3 linked regions of the Homo sapiens genome follow. The protein of the gene in region 3 purifies or fractionates together with the protein of the main gene of each other region. This does not show direct contact. Each region holds a gene or a part of one and is shown on either strand. Other genes may lie near its edges.

The links.
Region 1: the proteins of TNPO1 (region 3) and IPO9 fractionate together in Homo sapiens (co-fractionation; 2 studies listed by BioGRID). This does not show direct contact.
Region 2: the proteins of TNPO1 (region 3) and IPO7 fractionate together in Homo sapiens (co-fractionation; 2 studies listed by BioGRID). This does not show direct contact.

The regions. Positions count from the first base shown.
Region 1 is NC_000001.11:201,832,058-201,839,169, reverse strand, and holds part of IPO9 (importin-9), read right to left. Parts: intron 1-7,112. UniProt on the Homo sapiens protein: Nuclear transport receptor that mediates nuclear import of proteins, such as histones, proteasome and actin. Serves as receptor for nuclear localization signals (NLS) in cargo substrates.
Region 2 is NC_000011.10:9,387,590-9,394,701, reverse strand, and holds part of IPO7 (importin-7), read right to left. Parts: intron 1-7,112. UniProt on the Homo sapiens protein: Functions in nuclear protein import, either by acting as autonomous nuclear transport receptor or as an adapter-like protein in association with the importin-beta subunit KPNB1.
Region 3 is NC_000005.10:72,889,597-72,896,708, reverse strand, and holds part of TNPO1 (transportin-1), read right to left. Parts: intron 6,924-7,112; coding exon 6,752-6,923; intron 4,900-6,751; coding exon 4,813-4,899; intron 3,571-4,812; coding exon 3,463-3,570; intron 3,333-3,462; coding exon 3,174-3,332; intron 3,094-3,173; coding exon 3,006-3,093; intron 252-3,005; coding exon 153-251; intron 1-152. UniProt on the Homo sapiens protein: Functions in nuclear protein import as nuclear transport receptor. Serves as receptor for nuclear localization signals (NLS) in cargo substrates.

The sequences.
Region 1 (7,112 bases), on a different chromosome or scaffold from region 3:
GGCAGGTGGATCACCTGAGGTTAGGAGTTCGAGACCAGCTTGGCCAACATGGTGAAACCCCATCTCTACTAAAAATACAAAAATTAGCCGGGCGTGGTGGCGGGCGCCTGTAGTCCCAGCTACTTGGGAGGCTGAGGCAGGAGAATCGCTTGAATCCAGGAGGCGGAGGTTGCAGTGAGCCAAGATCATGCCACTGCACTCCAGCCTGGGTGACACAGCAAGGCTCCATCTCAAAAAAAAAAAAAAAAGTTTCCTCTAATAGGTTCTTACACATTTCCTAAGCATTTACTTTTTTGTTGATACTGTAAATTGGTTTTGGTTTTTAAAAAACCATTACGTCCTCTAACCTTTTATGGTTTGTGTATGTGAAAGCTATTGATTTTTATATTTTATGTCCTGTTTTACTGAATTCTTAGATTCTTAATTCATTCTTATTATGCCTTTAAGCTGCAGTTTTTGATCCACTCCTATGGCACCTATTGTTTCACTCAGGAAAGTGGATTTTTTTTTTTGGCATGACCGCCACAGAAGAAGCCACATTCTTTCTGAAAGAGTTATTAAATGATTAAATCACAAGCAAACACTTGAAACTTGCACAATCCCCCTACAGATACTGCAATCCATTCTAATTCTTAGGATTAATTTGGTTAGTACAGACTCTGGTTAAATCTATAAAACCCATTTGTAGCAAGAGAAGAAACAACAGGTATCTACAACCCGAAGATATGGGAGTCAACTATCAGAACTGATTCTAAAACACAGATGAGTCAGATAATTCAGGAACATCTCTTGGATAGCAATGTTCCAGTTCAATGGAAAAAAGCACTCTAAAATGCACATGTGAAATCCATTTAAAGGAGAAAGACAACTAGTAAGGGCATCCACAATTCCTTTGAGTTCAGATACTTAGTGTGATAATGGATGATACTTAGACTTCATGGCTTCAAGTCTGCTTAGAATGTCACTGTCCACCCAGGATTGGCCTCCCTGGACATGGTGAACCAATTCTGGTGTGCCTTATGTAACTTCCTTCACAATAATCTACAAGCACATTCACAAATTATCTGGGACATAACAGCATTTCCTTTTTTTTTCTTTTGAGACAGAGTTGCACTCTTGTTGCCCAGACTGGAGTGCAATGGCGCAATCTCAGCTCACCGCAACCTCCACCTCCCGGGTTCAAGCGATCCTCCTGCCTCAGCCTCCCGAGTGGCTGGGATTACAGGCATGTGCCACCACGCCCAGCTAATTTTGTAGTTTGAGTAGAAATGTGGTTTCTCCATGTTGGTCAGGCTGGTCTCAAACTCCCAACCTCAAGTGATCCGCCCGCCTCAGCCTCCCAAAGTGCTGGGATTACAGGCATGAGCCCCCGTGCCTGGCCTAGTATTTTCTTTTAAGGCATGATTTAAATAATTTTTCCATAGGTCATTATGATTTGGACTTTTAATGTTCCTAGCAAGAGCATAATTTTTGGATCATTACTACAGGGACAAACTAAAACAAGATCAAAATGAAGAAATTCTTCAATATACAGTGTGAAAAGATACTGAGGAATGAGACTTTTTGAGAAGGGTTTGAAACTTAAGACTTTAAGCTTAAACAAATCTGAACAACTGTCCTTCCAATGAAAGCACTGATATTCATATAGCTGTAGGGTAATACTGAGGCTCACAGCTCACAAAAGGGAAAAAGAACCACACATTTTCCATCAGTTCACTCTGGCACTGATCACAGGAGTCATTAGAGCATGAAGACCAGGCAAACTTTACACATAGGTCCTATCACAGCTTAAGGGTCCTTTCTCATCAACCAGAGAATTCCAAGTCTTTTCTCTTCAGAGAAAAGCTTAGCATGAATATATTTTTTCCATATCCCTGCCAGAAGGATGCACTCCAGTGATGATCACAGTAGCTAGAAGCTCTTCACTCTAATACAGTAATAAGTTAATCATGTCTGGTAACCTATCAAAGATCATATACAAAATTCCACTAACCACCTTGCTTCACACATCACTGAGACTGGAAGGGATGGTGAGAATAAGAGATCATCAGAAGATTAAGACCAACGTAGGGGCCAAAAACCCAAGTTAGCCAAGGGATCTGTACCTACAACAAGTATTTTAAGATGGACTCCTTCTAAAAGCTAATTTCTTTCACGCATGAAAGAAGCAGCATTAAAGTTCAAGTAACATATATTTGCTCAAAAGCAGATATATAATGGCAAAGAAAATCTTCAAATAACATCATCATTGTTAACTAAAGACAAATTTTAAAATAAAATAGATGAACAGATTTCCTTCTCTACAGACCCCTACAGTTTCAAAAATTATGACCACATGTCCAACATGACCACATGTTTCAAAGCCTCAAAAATTCAAAGACAAAGAGCTTATTTGCATTAGGTTATAGGGGGATGAAAGAGGGAAAATACAAAATTCTTTTACTTAACCCAATTTATTCTGTCTAGACCACATACCTACTAGAAATACAAGGATATCACTCACCATTTAAGAGTGTCATACCCATAATACTTTAGTTTACTTAAAAGCTATATAAATAATTGTTTCCAAGGAGTATGATGTTGATGGTAAACTCCGTGCTATAAAACCGATGCAAAATTAGCTGGGTGTGGTGATGCACACCTGTAGTCCCAGCTACTAAGGAGGCTAACATGGAAGGATCACTTGAGCCCAGGAGTTTGAGGCTGCAGTGAGCTATGATCACACCACTGCACTCCAGCCTGGATGACAGAGCAAGACCTTGTCTCAATTAAAAAACAAACTAAGAAACAAACTAATGCAAAGAAGGAAAAGCCAGAAAATAATTCTAAAGCTCTTGGCCTTATTTTAAATCTGATCAACACATTTGCTCCTATCCATTGGTTTCTGTTACGTAGTAAAACCCTACTTACAGATTTTTCACTTAACAGAGATACAATATTTTTTGAAATACAACTAAGTATATTTGTTAAAAAAAAAGTACGTGTGTGTGTGTTGGGGGACTTCTGGTTTTACTGATTGGTGTCTGTTTTTTTTTTTTTTTTTTTTTTTTGAGATGGAGTCTTGCTCTGTCACCCAGGCTGGAGGGCTGGAGTGCAGTGGTGTGATCTTGGCTCACTGCAAGCTCTGCCTCCCGGGTTCAGGCCATTCTCCTACCTCAGCCTCCAGAATAGCTGGGACTACAGGCGCCCGCCACCACGCCTGGCTAATTTTTTTGTATTTTTAGTAGAGATGGGGTTTCACCATGTTAGCCAGGATGGTCTTGATCTCCTGACCTTGTGATCCGCCCTCCTCGGCCTCCCAAAGTGCTGGGATTACAGGAGTGAGCCACACTGTGCCCGGCCTGGTGTCTTTAACACAATGTCTTTAAAAATATGAGAAAGAATAGCCTAATAACTTACTCTGGGATGATGAAGGCAGGGAAAATATAAGAAACACAGACATAAATATCCGCTTTATTTTGCTTTGCTTGGAAACGACTGTTTAAGATTAAACTAACATTCAATCTATGAAGTTGAGCCAAAGGGCAACACTGCCAAGAGGGCTATATGAAGTTGTTTTCTAAAGCTATTTTTGTTAGGAAATTTAATTTCTCTAGTTCCCTTTCCCATGGTGAAATAAGGACAGTTCATTCTGTTAATCTGGGTTTTCACCCTGACTCTAGATTCTCCTTAATTATACCTTTATTCCTATCCAAAATGGCATCCTTTGACTTCCTAAGAAATCCTCTGCCCTCTTTCATTCTCTAGTCTCATTCTCTTTTAGTCTTTTGCTTCCCTCTCGTTATCCTTGCTCCCCTTTCTCTCTTATCACCCCATATGGCAAAAACATTATCTATCTAAAACTTGGTTTAGAAGGGAAAACCCAAAGGAGAGCATGGAGGATAAAGGATCACTTAAGAAATACATGCTATTGGTCTGAAGGGTCTCCTAGAGAGACAAGACTTGGCAGTACTTTGACAGTCAACTAATAAGAATTGTGAACAGGGATTGTTGGAGAAGGATGCGGTTTTGAGTAGACCCCCTGGACAAGCCCCCTATTTCTCATGGGAGTTGGTAAGCACCACAAAACCACAGCTGAAAGGAAAAAGAAAACTCCACCACTGGCCTTTTTCCGAGCGTGGCCGCCTTCCGCTCGGCTCAGTGCCCGCCACATGCCCAGGAGTGCGTCTGGATCCTTGAGGGGCGCCCTTCGCAGGTGGACAGTGCTTACGCTATACTGCAAAAGAGCCAGAAAAGTGCCCATGAGAACCAGAAAGCAAACTTCCAGCCAGCAGGATCATCTCTCTAGGCATCTAAGATGGGGAAATCAATACAGGTATCTCGGCAGCATCTGAATGCCAGGAAAGGTGAGGGAGAGATAATTTCCCCCCTCCCCTGTTCAACATAATGGTGGTAGAAGGGAAGAAAAATGTATTCTCTGTGACTTATCTACTGGGAACTAGACAAGGCCAAATGATAGGGGAAATGTCATCATTTGTAATAGGCAAAAAAGAAATAAGCAAAGAAGAAAATGTCCTAGGGTCTAAATCTAGTTATGTAAGAAAGTCTGTGCATGCTGGCACGAAGAATTAAAGCTTCTGAATGAAAGCAACCCATTCCACCACTTGGATAATGCCATTCTTAGAGGAAAAGTAGAGAAAGAAGTAGAAAAAGAGGGAAAGAACTTCATTTTAAGATATAAAAAAATAAAGCACGAATACACCAAAAATAAAAGGCTGACATTCTCAAAAGATGGTAATTCTCATGATCTCACCGTAAGTCAGACAAAAACAAAAGAAAAAGAGTTGATGAAGCTGAGTACAGAATATGAGACTTTGACGTAAGAGATCTTCGGTGGTTCATAACCTCTCCAGTCTTTTTAACTACTATGTTTGTAAAGTGCTTAATATGAACCTGCCTATTAAACAAAACAGAATTAGAAAGCATGCTTTAGACTCTTAGCAGTGCAACAAAAAAAAAAAAGAAAAGAAAAGTTTTTTTACTCTAACGAATAAAAAAACTTAAAAAAAATTTTTTTTACCCTATTTAGGTAGAAGTAAATTTCCTACAAACCTGATCAAACTCAAAATCTCAATCCTCCTAAGAAAAATGAAAGGGGCCAGGTGTGGTTGCTCATGCCTATAATCTCAGCACTTTAGGAGGATCACTTGAGGGCAGGAGTTCAAGGCCAGCCTGGTCAACACAGCAAGACCCCATCTCCAGAAAAAAACTAAAAAAATCAGCCAAGTATGGGCATGTGCTTGTAGTCACAGCCACTTGGGAGGCTGAGGTTGGGAGGACTGCGTAAGCCCAGGAGTTAGAAGCTGCAGTAAGCTATGATCACACCACTGCACTCTAGCCTGGGTGACAGAGCAAAACTCTGTATCTTAAAAAAAAGAAAGAAAGAAAAATGAAAGGTTAACAATTATCTGCAGAATACTGTACACCATAATAACTTCCAAACTTTCAAGCAATGTTCTTCTCAATTCAGGATGGGAGTGCTATCTGATGAAGGTGGTTACTGGCATCATCTCCTTATCTAATTAGCCCTGTTAAATAGACTTTAAATATTCAGAGAGGTTTGCTGGGTTTCTTCCAGATTCCAAGTGACTAGCAAAAATAGCAAGCACAGGGGCTCAAGAAAATCATTCCAGCCAGGCGCAGTGGCTCACGCCTGTAATCCTAGCACTTTGGGAGGGCAAGGTGGGTGGATCACCTGAGGTCAGGAGTTCGAGACCAGCCTGGCTAACATGGTGAAACTCCATCTCTACTAAAAATACAAAAATTAGCCTGGCGTGTTGGTACGCGCCTGTAATCCCAGCTACTTGGGAGGCCTAGGCATGAGAATCACTTGAATCTAGGAGGCGGATGTTGCAGTGAGCCGAGATCATGCCAATGCACTCCAGCCTGGGTGACAGAGCGAGACTCTGTCTCAAAAAATAAAATTAAAAAAAAAAAAAAAATCATTCCAGGACACCAGGCTGATGAAGTAACCTATCTTATCCTTTTCAGATTGACACGCTACATGAATCAAATGGATCTCTCACATACACACACTTCCTTGGCTTAAGAGAACAGGTGCCCATTCTGGAAAATGTGATAATTAATTATAGGCAATTTATTTATTTATCAGAAAATATCAGCTGGTACACTAAATGATCAGGACTACTCTAGGCTCCAGCAATCTTTATTTTCTAAGATAACTGCTTCTTAAAATCTCATCTATAGTACAATTTGGTCACAGCATGTCAACTTCTCTTGCCTGTCCTTTTAACAGGGAGTTGACAATTGACCTGTGTCCTTTCCCCATAAATTAGATATTCTTCCATTTAATCTTCAAGACAAGGGATCATCACCTGGTAGCCAAGGAAGGTAACAAATGTTTTTGGCAAAGGGAACGGACCAGTTAATCTTAAAGACCATGTGGGATCAGTCTCCTATGTGATGGACTAATAAACAGCTCACAAAGACAGTGTGGTTATTTGAGAGGACAGAGGGAGGACTAGATCTGGTTGTCACCTGATCCTGGGCCCCATGGAACCAAAAAATGATCAAAAGATTACCAGAACACAAATAATAATAGACACCAAATCCCAGATTTCTCATTAACTTCAAGTTTTAAGAGTGTTTCCGGCCTGGCCGGTTGGCTCATGCCTGTAATCTCAGCATTTTGGGAGGCTGAGGTGGGCAGACTGCTTGAGCTCAGGAGTTCAAGATCAGCCTGGGCAACATGGCTAAACTCCGCCTCTGCTAAAAATACAAAAATTAGCCAGGCATGGTGGTGCATGCCTGTAATCCCAACTACTTGGGAGGCTGAGGCACGAGAATTGCTTGAACCTGGGAGGTGGAGGTTGCAGTGAGCTGAGATCATGCCACTGCACTCCAGCCTGGGCCCTGGACCACAGAGTGAGACTCGGTCTCAAAAAAAAAAAAAGTGTTTCCTAGAATCAGAAAACAAGGTTCCTTCTACCAGGGTAAAACTAAAATGTGGGCTGGGTGCAGTGGCTCACGGCTGTAATCCCAGCACTTTGGGAGGCCGAGGCGGGTGGATCACCTGAGGTCAGGAGTTCGAGACAACCTGGCCAACATGGTGAAACCTCGTCTCTACTAAAAATACAAAAATTAGCCAGGCA
Region 2 (7,112 bases), on a different chromosome or scaffold from region 3:
TTTCAAGTTAGAACCTAAGGGACGTAAACTCAGAAATCAGAGAAGACTTTGAACAGTGAAAGATAAAAATGAATTGGTAGGTTGTGGCCAAAAAATTTAAAGAGTATGAATTTTTTGTGAAGGGTTATACATGATCAGATTTATGCTATAGGAAAATGAGTTCTTGAAGCACTGTGAAGAATGTAATGAAGAATGTAATTCAAGGAATGATGACTATAAAACATGAATGAAAAACTATTAGTACAACAGGTAGTAGCAACAGGCCTCAAAAACCTAGGCCCCTATTCTACTATACAGCCAAGCTTCCCTGCTGCTTTCTCTGCCACCCAAAATAAGCTCAACTTTAAAAAATAGAAAAAGAAAAACGCACACTCTCACATCAACGAATTTCCCAATATGGCCACCCTTTTAACTTACAATCTTATCCCTGCCCCCTTACTAGCATTCCACTCACTAACACTGTAATCAGAAATTGCTTTCCCCTCTGACTGCGTGGAAAATTAATAATAATTTTAAAAATTAAAAGGCTGGGGGCGATGGTTCACGCCTGCAATCCCAGCACTTTGGGAGGCCGAGGAGGGCGGATCACGAAGTCAAGAGATGGAGACCATCCTGGCCAACATGGTGGAACCCATCTCTAAAAATACAAAAATTAGCTGGGCGTGGTGGCGCACGCTTGTAGTCCCAGCTACTTGGGAGGCTGAGGCAGGATAATCACTTGAACCTGGGAGGCAGAAGTTGCAGTGAGCCGAGATAGCACCACTGCACTACAGCTGGGAGACAGAGAGAGACTGTCTCAAAAAAATAAAAAAATTAAAAGAAAAAAATTAGAAATTACTTTTCCAAGGTTACTGATACTTTAATGCATTTTCCCAGAAAGTCTTCAGTTTGTTTAACCTCTCTCATTTAGGAGTATCAACACCCCTTTCTTTTTTCTAAAAATTTTTTACTCATTTTCAAAAGTAATTCATGCTCTTTGGTAGAGAATTTATTAAATCTATGTAAGAAAAAGGAAATTAGGCCTGGTGTGGTGGCTCACGCCTGTAATCCCAACACTTTGGGAGGCCGAGGAGGGTGGATCACCTGAGGTCAGGACTTCGAGACCAGCCTGGCCAACGTGATGAAACTCCTTCTCTACTAAAAATATAAAAAAATTAGCCGGACGTGGTGGTGGTTGCCTTGTTATCCCAGCTACTAGGGAGGCTGAGGCAGGAGAACTGCTTGAACCCAGGAGACGGAGGTTGCAGTGAGCTGTCACTGTGCCACTGCACTCCAGCCTGGGCAACAGTGAGACTCCGTCTCAAGAAAAAAAGAAAAAGAAAAAGGAAACTAACCACTAACCACAAGCAACCTTCTTAAAATTATCTTTCTTGGCTTCTCTCTTACTTTTATGCCCAAAATCTCCAGTCTGCTTTTTCAGATGTTTATCAAAGTACCCAAAATAGGCATGGTTGAAAGTTTAGCCCTCTAGTCCATCCCATACCTTTGGATCATACTACTGTAATCACCTGCCTGCAGAAGAATATCACTTTTCCATTGCTGCTTTCTCTCCTAAACTTCAGCTCCACATTCCAATTGCCTGCTAGACTTTTTCTACTTGATGTTTACCAGCTCCTCAAACTAGACACTCTGTATGTAACTCATGTCTTCAAAATCAGTTTTCCCTCTGGACCCACATTTTCCAATGTAATCACTAATGTCAGTATCTTTTAAAACATACTCTTCAAACCCGTAACTTTTTTTTTTTTTTTTTTTGAGACAGAGTCTTGCTGTCGCCCAGGCTAGAGTGCAGTGGAGCAATCTTGGCTCACTTCAGCCACTGCCTCCCAGGTTCAAGCGGTTCTCATACCTCAGCCTCCTGAGTAGCTGGGATTACAGGCACGCAACACCATGCCCGGCTAATTTTTGTATTTTTAGTAGAGACAGGGTTTTGCCATGTTGACCAGGCTGGTCTTAAACGCCTGACCTCAGATGATCCACCCACCTTGGCCTCCCAAAGTGCTGGGATAACAGGCCTGAGCCACCGCACCCGGCCAAAACTGTAACTTTGTATTATTTCTCTCCATTGAAATATAACCAAAGAGACTTTCAATTAGCTACTATACTTCAGACCATTTTTAAGGAACACAGGAGGTAGAAGAATCCCGTGCTATCAGATTTTTACATTAAATACAACCAGGTAATTTCAAGAGCCAAGGAACTTCTAACCTTTCTTGTTACTAAAGCATTTGACAAGCCGGGCACAGTGGCTCACACCTGTAATCCCAGCACTTAGGGAGACCAAGGTGGGCGGATCTCGGGAGTTCGAGACCAGCCTACCAACATGGAGAAACCCCGTCTCTACTAAAAATACAAAATTAGCCGGACGTGGTAATGCATACCTGTAATCCCAGCTACTCAAGAGGCTGAGGCAGGAGAATTGCCCGAATCCGGGAGGCGGAGGTTGTGGCGAGCCGAGATTGTGCCATTGCACTCCAGTCTGGGCAACAAGAGCGAAACTCCGTCTCAAAAAAAAAAAAAAAAAAAAAAAGAATTTGACAAAGGCAAATATGACATCTACCTTGGCTACATGAAATATAAGGCATAGTGAGGTTAAGTCATTATAGTCGTAGACTCAGGACAAGGCTAAGGCTCTTCACTGCGTCCCTCTGCCTTTGTTAAAAAAACAGTAATAAGCCAAGTGCAGTGACTCGCACCTGTAATTCTAGCACTTGGGAGTCAAGGCTGGGCAACAAAGACAGACCTCGTCTCTACAAAAAATAAAAAACTTAGGCAGGTGTGGTGGTGCACGCCTGTAGTCCCAGCTAGTTGGGAGGCTAAGGCAGGAGGATAGCTTAATCCCAGGAGAGTCAAGGCTGCCGTGAGCCATGTTCATACTACTGCACTCCAGCCTGGGTAACAGTGTGAAACCCTGTCTCAAAAAATAATAACAATAAAAATAATTTTAAAATATTATTTTTATGCTTTCCAACTAGGAAGTTTTATGTTATTTTATTTTTTAAGATGGAGTCTTGCTGTCGCCCAGGCTGGAGTGCAGTGGTGTGATCTCTGCTCACCGCAAGCTCTGCCTCCCAGGTTCATGCCATTCTGCCTCAGCCTCCTGAGTAGGTGGAACTACAGGCACCCACCACCATGCCCAGCTAATTTTCTGTATTTTTAGTAGAAATGGGGTTTCACCATGTTAGCCAGGATGGTCTCGATCTCCTGACCTCATGATCCACCCACCTCAGCCTCCCAAAGTGCTGGGATTACAGGCGTGAGCCACCATGCCCGGCCAGAACTTTTATTTTATTTTTCTTTTTTTGAGGCAGAGTCTTGCACTGTTGCCCGGGCTGGAATGCAATGACGTGATCTTGGCTCACTGCACCTCCGCCTCCCGGGTTCAAGTGATTCTCCTGCCTCAGTCTCCCAAGTAGCTGGGATTACAGGCACCCACCACCACACCCGGCTAATTTTTCATATTTTCAGTAGAGACGGGGTTTCACTATGTTGATCAGGCTTGTCTCGAACTCCCGACCTTGTGATCCGCCCACCTCGGCCTCCCAAAGTGCTGGATTACAGGCGTGAGCCACCGCATCTGACCTCCAACTAGGAACTTTAAAAAAAAACTTTTTTATTAGAAATCATTTAGCAGCCGGGCGCTGTGATTCATGCCTGTAATCCCAACACTTTGGGAGGCAGAGGCGGGTGGATCACCTGAGGTCAGGAGTTCAAGACCAGCCTGGCCAACAAGGTGAAACCCCATCTCTACCAAAAATACAAAAATTAGCCAGGAGTGGTGGCGGGCGCCTGCAGTCCCAGCTACTCGGGAGGCTGAGGCAGGAGAATTGCTTGAACCCAGAAGGCAGAGGTTGCAGTGAACCAAGACTGCGCCACTGCATTCCAGCCTGGGTGACAGAGCGAGGCTCTGGCTAAAAAAAAAAATTTTTTTTGTATGTTGCCCAGGCTGGTCTCAAACTCCTGGACGAGCGATCCTCTTCCTGCTTTTACCTCCCAAAGTGCTGGGATTACAGGCGTGAGCCACTGCGCCCAAACTCTTTCAGATCTTTAACAAGCTATATCATTGAATAACTTGCTATCTAACAGCCGAAGTATCCAGGGACTTTCCTTCTCCCAAATTCAGAACAGTACTTCAAAATATTCCTGGTGAAGGAATGTTATCTAAACTACAGGCTACTCTGGTCTTCCTAAAATATTTTGCTTAATTTCTAAACATTCCAAATTATCTTACAAATATGCCATTATTTTACACTTTTCCAGACCTAAGATTTTCATTAAATACTTTTAATAAAATGGAATCAAATGAACCATTTATAAGTAAGGTATATCACATACAGCAGTAATAGTTAACCTTTTGTGACAATCCCAAAAGTGATCCAGGGTAGTGTGAGTTAAAAAAAAAAAAACACACACACACACAAAATATCAAGAAACTTACCAAAAGCAAGATCACTTTTTCATATAAAGCAAGTGAGAAAGTAGCACTGCTGCCTGTACATATAAAACCATTAGGCCGGGCACGGTGGCTCAGGCCTGTAATCCCAGCACTTTGGGAGGCCAAGACGGACGGATCACCTGAGGTCAGGAGTTCGAGACCAGCCTGGCCAACATGGCGAAACCCCGTCTCTACTAAAAATATAAAATTAGGCCAGGCGCAGTGGCTCACGCCTGTAATCCCAAGACTTTGGGAGGCTGAGGTGGGCAATCACCTGCAGTGAGGAGTTCAAGACCAGGCTGGCCAACATGGTGAAACCCCGTCTCTACTAAAAACACAAAAATTAGCCGTGTGTGGTGGTGCATTCCTTTAATCCCAGCTACTCGGGAGGCTGAGGCAGAATTGCCTGAACCCGGGAGATGGAGGTTGCAGTGAGCCGGATGGCACCAATGCACTCTAGCCTGGGCAAAAAGAGCGAAACTCCACTCAAAAAAAAAAAAAGGTGTATATACATATATAACCATTATATACCATATTGAGCTTAGGAACTAAGAGTTTAAATGTCTCCTGGGTAAACCCTCTAATTCCACTTACAGCATTTTTCTTGACTGCGAATATAACAGGGGAAAGACTATTGATGCGGAGATCATATCCACCTTAGCCAAAATCAGATCTAATAGTTTCGTCATCCAAAACTTACATGTAGCTTTATTATAGTACTGACCACATGTATTGTATGGGCCAGTGACGTGGTGATTATGGAGCTCTAGAAAGGCAGTGATCATAAATTTCTCTGCATCTAACTACTTAGCTCAGTGCCTAGCACACAGACATTTGCTGTTACATGAACCAGACTGGGAATTATCCTTCGGAATGAGTATTTAATAAAAATCTTCCTGGCATTATATTTAAAAACACCGGCTGGTGTGGTGGCTCATGCCTGTAATCTCAGCACTTTGGGAGGCCAAGGTGAGTGGATCACTTAAGGTCAGGAGTTCGAGACCAGCCTGGGCAATGTGGCGAAACCCCGTCTCTACTAAAAATACAAAAATTGGCCAGATGTGGTGGCACCTGTAGTCTCAGTTACTCAAGAGGCTGAGGACTGAGAATCGCTTGAACCTGGGATTGGAGGCTACAGTGAGCCAAGATCATGCCACCGCACTCTAGCCTGGGCAACCGAGTGAGAACCTGCCACAAAAATACTAATAATAATAATAATAAATTTTAAAAAATAAATAAAAGAGCTAAAGCCTATACTGTTATTTATTAATATTATAACAGGAAGTCAGTCATAAAGCCTATTACTGGGAAATCAAGGAATAACAATAACAAAAAATAACAATTCATGACCTCAAGAAACTTAAAATTATAGTGGGGAGAAGAAAAGTTAAGTAAAATTAGGCCAGGCGTGGTAGCACGTGTCTGCAGTCCCAGCCACCTGGGAGGCTCAGATGGGAGGACGCTGCTTGAGGCCAAGAGTTCTAGGCTGTAGTGTACTATGTAGTGCAGTGGAGCCCACTGCACTCCAGCCTGGGTAACATAGCAAGGCCTTAGCTCTGAAAAAATTAAAAATAAGCCTGGGCAACACGGTGAAACCTTGTCTCTACAAAAAATACAAAAATTAATTGGGCATAGTGGCACATCCCCGTAGTCTCAGCTACCTGGGAGGCTGAAGTGGGAGTGTTGCTTGAGCCCGAGAGGGAGAGGCTGCAGTGAGCCATGATGGTGCCACTGCACTCCAGCCTGGGTGATGGAGCAAGACCCTGTCTCAAAAAATAAATATAAATAAATAGGCTGGGCATGGTGGCTCATTCCTGTAATCCCAGCACTTTGGGAGGCCGAGGTGGGCGGATCACAAGGTCAGGAGTTGGAGACCAGCCTGGCCAACATGGTAAAACCCCATCTCTGCTAAAAATACAGAATTAGCCAGGTGTGGTGGCAAACGCCTGTAATCCCAGCTACTTGGGAGGCTGAGGCAGGAGAATTGCTTGAACCCAGGAGGCAGAAGTTGCGGTGGGCTCATATTGCGCCACTGCACTCCAGCCTGGGCAACAAGAGCAAGACTCCGTCTCAAAAAAAAAAAAATTTATTTATTTATTTATTTTTATTTTTATTTTTTGAGACGCAGTTTCGCTCTTGTTGCTCAGGCTGGAGTGCAATGGTACGATCTCGGCTCACCGCAACCTCCACCTCCCGGGTTCAAGCGATTCTCCTGCCTCAGCCTCCCTAGTAGCTGGGATTACAGGCATGCGCCACCACGCCCAGCTAATTTTGTATTTTTAGTAGAGACGGGGTTTCTCCATGTTGGTCAGGCTGGTCTCGAACTCCCAACCTCAGGTGATCCGCCCGCCTCGGACTCCCAAAGTGCTGGAATTCCAGGCATGAGCCACCATGCCCAGCCAATGTTTTAAATTTAATTAATTAATTAATTTTTTTGAGATGGAGTCTCACTCTGTTGCCCAGGCTGGAGTGCAGTGGCACGATCTCAGCTCACCGCAACCTCCGCCTCCCAGGTTCAAGCGATTCTTCTGCCTCAGCCTCCTGAGTAGCTGGGATTACAAGCATGCGCCACCGCGCCCAGCTAATTTTGTATTCTTAGTAGAGATGGGGTTTCTCCATGTTGGTCAGGCTGGTCTCAAACTCCCAACCTCAAGTGATCAGTCCGCCTCAGCCTCAC
Region 3 (7,112 bases):
TAGTAGAGACGGGGTTTCACCATGTCAACCAGGCTGGTCTCAAACTCCTGACCTCAGGTGATCTGCCCGCCTCAGCCTCCCGAAGTGCTGGGATTACAGGCGTGAGCCACCGCGCCAGGCCTTATGCTTTTAAATAGGGAAAAACATCTTACCCATTTGAATGGAGATTTCTCCAATTGCCCATGTGGCATTGTTGCAGACTGAAATGAATTCTGGATTTAGGTTGGTTCCCAATATTGGCATGAAATCAGCTAGAAAAAAAATTTAAACTATGTAGTAAACTTTTCAATAGCAGTATATTGTACTTTAAAGGAAATCTACTAGGTGGAAACAGAAATCTAAGCAAGAAATAACAAGTTTCACCATTAAAAAAATTACTGCAACATCAATTTTAAAATTGGTGGAAATAAACTAGGCAACTGTATTTAAAAATATTTTTTAAAGGAGTTGGTAATGTTTATCTTAAGAAACTGAAGAAAACAGTATCTGGCCAATGAACTTTCAAATAATGTGGAACAGGAAATACAAGTTTGGGTATATTTTACATACCACTAAAAAGAGTTGGTCAGAGTAATCTCTTGTAATTAGACTAAAAAAAAAAAATCAATGATTTTGGCTTTTAAAGCAATTTTCACTCTTGTGCTCTGATTGTGGTCTCTGAATAACATTTTCCACTAAAAAAAAATGGACTCTCAGAAAACGTCACATTACAGGCAAAGGCAGGAAATGTGCAAAATAAGTGGACTATCTTGTCATAATGAAAGGACTCGGGAGCCAACTTAAGTTCTCACTGCAAGCAGTACAACAGCTTGAACATCATGAAGTCACACTAGCACTAAAAACAATCAAACAAAAACAAAACTCTGAAACATCAAAGATACCTTTGGAGGATGATAGGAATCAATTCATTATTTTGAAAATTGGTAAATAAAAAAAAGAATCAAGTATTTATCTTGCCTCTGCTATATGATTTTACCTCAGGATAGTAATTTATTGATATGGGAAATGTCTCCCTATATAAGTATCTTCATTATTAAATGAAGAATTAGAATATCATAATTTTTTAAACTCCTAATAAATCAGGAGATGTAAGCCAGGGTTTCTTGATCTCAGCAATATTGACAGTTTGGGCCAGATCATTTTTTTGTTGGGGGGAAGGGGAGCTGTCTCCTGTATTATAAGATGTTTAGCAACATCCTTTGCTTCTACCCACTAGACATCAATGGCACCTCTCCAGCATCAAACAAAATGTCTCCAGACACTGGCAAATGTTCCCCGAATGGCAAAATTGCCCCTAGTTGAGAACCACTAATTGAGACAATCATCAAGATTGGTAACATTAAAAAAAAAAAAAGGAGGGACAACTAGACACTATGTACACTAAGTACACAATACCATCTATAAAGTCTTAAAAACAAAACAACGTAAATCTCATTAAACCTCAGTCTCTGTATCCAAACAATTTACAGTAAATACAACGGACAGAGGAACATGTTAAAGACAACAAAGATGCAATCAGTAAAATCCACAGTAAAGGAAACTCTTTAGAATAAAAAACATGGTTTCTTTAACAAAAAACAATTGTAAGAAGAGATAGTATAGTATGTACTAAAATATTAAGACTTCAAATGCTGTGTTTGAGATTTGCTCCAAAATATCTGAGATCTATGTGTCTCACCACTGACAACAGTATATAGGAAACAGGACTGGACAGTTGAAGCTGGGTGATAGGAGGTTTGTTACATTTTTTCTACTTTTGTACGTCTTAAACACTTTATAATAAAAAAATTAAATCCTTTCATATAAGTTTCAACTAAAAAACTAAATTAGGTGGTAAATATGAGAATGATAAGCTTCCCATAAGAATTCATTACACTGTTAGGTTTAAACTTGATGGTTCTTAATATATCATAATTAATGTTAATTATGTTAGTTTTTTGAGAAATGGTTATCCAAAAGCACAATTATATCAGATGACAAAACATTCAATTAATATTTTAAATTAAGGTTTAAATGAAGTATTAAAATAATTTTTTTTGAGACGGAGTCTTGCTCTGTTGCCCAGGCTGGAGTGTAGTGGTACAGTATCAGCTCACTGCAGACTCTGCCTCCCGGGTTCAAGCGATTTTCCTGCCTCAGTTTCCCAAGTAGCTAGAACTACAGGCACAAGCCACCACGCCTGGCTAAGTTTTTGTATTTTTAGTAGAAGCGGGGTTTCACCGTGTTAGCCAGGATGGTCTTGATCTCCTGACTTCGTGACCTGCCCGCCTTGGCCTTCCAAAGTGCTGGCATTACAGGTCTGAGCCGCCGTGCCCGGCTGTATTAAAATAATTGTTACCCAACATGCTGAGATGCAGAAAAGGGGGAAAAAAATCCCATAACTCATTTATAACCCATAGGTTTAAGAACAATTCCGGGTACAACATTCAAGGAATTTCTTATCATTGTCACAGAAGGCCAAGACAAATGCTATGCTAGTCTCGAATCTCGCACTCCTGACCTCAAGTGATCTGCCTGCCTTGGCTTCCCAAAGTGCTGGCATTACAGGTGTGAGCCCCCAGGCCCAGTCTCAGTTAAAGTGACATTTGTTGGAAGTTTTCTGCAATATCTGAAAAAGTATGCTGGTTTGCTAGAGAAGAAAACCTGATTATTACTATTTCTGTGTACCTCTACCAAAAAGGTGGCTACTCAAAAAAGAATCTATTAACTAGTCCATGGTACCAAGGCTTCCCTGGTGGGCATGTCCTTTACTCTAAAGTATATTACTAAGCTTTCCTCCAGTCACAGGAGTACCTAAAAAGCTGAGATGATGGCAAGCTCAAGGAAATATTAGGGGTTCCTGCCATCTTGCCTGTTTCAATCACAGCAAGTTTACTTTAACCAATAAAGTGTACATTTATAAATGTTGGGATTCCATGCAATTTCAGTTTAATAATAAAAAAACAAAGCTGATGTAAATGTTAACTTTAAAAAACCATATTCATAGCAGTAGAAAATATTCATACCTATACAAGGCTTAACATGCTGAAAGCAAGCTTTTGTGAGGTCACCTAACAGGGCAAAAGAACTCTGTCGAACTTCTGGCATTTTATCCTACAAGAAATAAGAAGAAATTAACCCCAATGTGACACAGAGAAACAGGCTTCAATTCATTTTCACCTTTCAAGTCTCACCTGCATGCACTGATACATTAGTGTCAGGATGTTACTTCGGGCTACCAGCTGTTCAATGTTGCCTCCAAGTCCTTCAGCCAGGCCACTCAGTAAATCAAGAGCCACTATCATAAAATCTTTATCTGGAGCTTCATATTGATCTGGTTGAGCATTGTTTAGCTGAAATTAGACACAATGTTTTTTGTAAGTTTGGTTTTAATTAACTACTTAAAAAGTCTGTATACATTATACCTATCTTTAGAAAAATGTCCACCATGTCAAGAAGAGGAAGACATTTTAAAAAAATTACCATGGCTTGTGCAAGAGTCTTCTGTACTAGGTTTACACAACGCTGATACACAGGTTCACAGTACGGAAGGAATCCAGACTGCAGTGCTGTGGCAACTGAAGATAGGCACTAGGAAGAATAAAGTACACATGCTAAACTTTCTGGGTATACTGAAGATTATGATGAATGCTTGAAACTGCGCTCAACAGGATCCTGATCATTTATGAGCTTGCTCTACTAGTTTCTACAGTAGCAGGTTCCCCTCCCCCCACCCCAACCCTCTCTTTTGGAAGCCATTCATTGTTGTTAGTTTGCCAGCCAATCAGGTCAGGTTTACTCAGAGGAAGCGTTTCTACAAGAAACATTATCTTTAAAGGACAGATTGAGTATTATGTGTTCATATTTTTCCCTCAAATTGAAGAGATTCATTTCATGCTCCCATCCTGGTCAATGTTGTGAATGGACTTTACTGGGCACATTCTGAGATCCTGCCGGAAAGTAATATATATACAGTTGGCCCTCTGTATCTATGGATTCAACCAATCTTGAATCAAAAGTATTTAGAAAAACAATTAAAATGATTTAAAGTATATTGGGAGGAGGTGCATAGGCCATATGCAAATACCACATCATTTTATATAAGGGACTTGAGCATCGCTGGATTTCTGTATCCAAGGGGAGTCCTGGAAACAATCCCCTGCAGATACTGAGGGACGACTGCATACAAAAAATGAACCATAATGATTCTTCTTGTTTTGCTGGGCCCAGAATTGCTCTTGGTCATAGAAAATTTAACTTCTTTGGCTAAGAACAATCCACGGTAGAAGATGGTGAACCTTGAAATAACAGGGAGCAAGAATGAAAAGGCCTGAACTGGTTCTATCAATGTCAATTCAACTAAGTTTAAGTGACTACATTTCACAGTGTGTTCAGTTACGAGAACATCATATAAAAGTTTGCAATGAAAGGGGTGTTAAAAAAAAAAGTAGTTAAGTACACATGGAAACATTTTCAAATTTGAAAATAAGTACCTCCTTACTGGCACCAAATCCCACTACTCAACATATATGTATGAGTGAAAAGATATATATATATATCCCGGTATATATATCCTCCCAGTATGTTATCTACTCTATACTATATAGAGTAGTATGCTATCTACTCTATATAGAGAGTAGATAACATAAGAGAACTTAAAACTCTAATTTATTATCAATTAAGTAAAGCAGGTTAGAGAACAGTATGTATCATATAATTTCCTCCGTCTACTTCAGAATATAAATTTATTAACACTTTTCTTATCATATATACCCATTTTGGATTTGAACATGTGTTCTTGGCAACAGATTAAATATTACTAGCCCTGCATACCTCAAGTAAAGGGAAGAGATCTTTATCTTCATCCTTTAACATGTTCCATTTCTGGATCAGTGGAGGCATTAGCATCTGAATATATTCCTATTTACAATGATGAAAAACATATAAAATTCCACTATCACATGTCAACAAGACCATTTTGAGTCTTTGAAAATTAAAATCCATTTTGAGCAATTGTGTAAAATCATTACAAAAGGCATTTTAAGAGTCATTCTTCACTCTGCACAGTCCCTTTTAAAGTTTTCCTTTCTGTTGCCTACCTTTATACTTACATGACCGTGTTCTAGTTTTAGATCTAGAACTAGTGATCTACTGATCTTTTATCCTTGTTGAAAAAAAGAGTCTATCAATAAACACACAGCTAATCAAAATCTATTACTTAAAAAAGTCACAATCAAGGAAGATCTAAGTTTTTCTCTTTTTTTTGAGACGGAGTCTTGCTCTGTCGTCCAGGCTAGAGTGCAGCGGCGTGATCTCAGCTCACTGCAAGCTCCGCCTCCCAGGTCCACGCCATTCTCCTGCCTCAGCCTCCCGAGTAGCTGGGACTACAGGCACCCCCCACCACACCCGGCTAATTTTTTGTAGTTTTAAAGAGACAGGGTTTCACCGTGTTAGCCAGGATGGTGTCGATCTCCTGACCTTTTGATCTGCCCACCTCAGCCTCCCAAAGTGCTGGGATTACAGGTGTGAGCCACTGTGCCCAGACCTAAGTTTTTCTCTTTAAGTTACAGAATATTTTTAGTTCTGGGGCTGGGCATGGTGGCTCACACCTGTAATTCCAGCACTTTGAGAGGCTGAGGCAGGCAGATCACTTGAACCCAGGAGTTTGGGCCAGCCTGGGCAACATGGCAAAACTATCTCTACAAAAAGTTGGCCAGGAATGGTGGTACACGCCTGTGGTCTCAGCTACAGGGGAGGCTGAAATGGGAGGATCGCTTGAGCCCGGGAGGTGGAGGTTGCAATGAGCTGTGATCACACCACTGCACTCTAGCCTAGGTGACAGAGTGAGACCTTGTCACACACAAAAAAATTCCTTTTAGTCATGGAACTGTAACGTGTAATATGGCTGTTACTATATAGTACATTTTTAAATCAACAGGTAAACTTACACAGATGCTTTTGTAGAAAAACAAACTTAAAATCATTTAAGTGTCAAACTAAAGAATGATCCATAAAACGACTAAACATAGTGATCATGTAAACAGGGGCACAGACTCTAAAGACATTCAGAAAACAAACCCCCACAAAAGCCAAACCAAACAACCAACAGCAAAGCAAACCTATAAACTGCCCTGTACCAAATCTTAAGTGTAACTTAAAAATAAAACAATTTCTTAAGACTTTGGATATAGCAATCATATAGAAGTCTATTCAGCAGGGTATGTGGAGCTATATTAAAATTCTACTATCACTTAAATCCTCATTAGACAAATCCATCCTCCTCTTCTACTAACACTACTGGAAACAAGGCACTTTTGCATTACTATTTAGCATTTTTAAACCTACTACCCCAATTTCTATTTGTTTTATACAGTATACTCCCCGTACCTGCTGAAAAAACAAAGATGTCTAGATATGGTACTCTAAAGCTACAGTGTTTATGAAGTGGTAGATTCAAAAACATTAGGAATTAAGTAAAAGCAGATATCCAGATTATAAAAACTTTTTTATCCCTTTGCTTTAGTCATTCTAAAAAGTATCAGAGCATTCATGTGAAATGCTGCTGTAGTTTCCACACCAAGTATGTATTTACTTTAAGAATACCACATGAAAGGGGATATACTTGCTGCCTTTGTAAGATCTATACTCTTAAAGTAGCTAACGCTAACTATTCACATCTCCCAAAACATCTTAATTTCCAAATATATGCTAATCTATTAATTGTAACTATGCTACACATTATTTTCCCTAATAGTTCTTAACAGATACTTACTGGTTTGTTTAAATGATGTCCTACTGAATCTGCTAATGTTCCTATGGCATCGTAAAGAATGAGCAGGTTCTTATGCTGGTATTTACTAAATGCAAAGACCAGGGTATCAAGTATATAAGCAAGGTAAGGAACAAGTTCTGTACAAGCCTCCTCTTCTAGGGTAGCAAAGGCACTGTTTAAAAAAAAAAAAAAAGAATACTTATTGACTGTAAGATATATCTAACTCTTAATTGCTAAAATGTTTATGTTCTGTTTTACCCAATCAGGAATTTCCTAAAATGGTCTAAGCCATCTGTTAATGAAAGCCCTGGTCATCAGCACTGTGAATTATTTACCGATTTCTTCCATAGCACTTGCCATA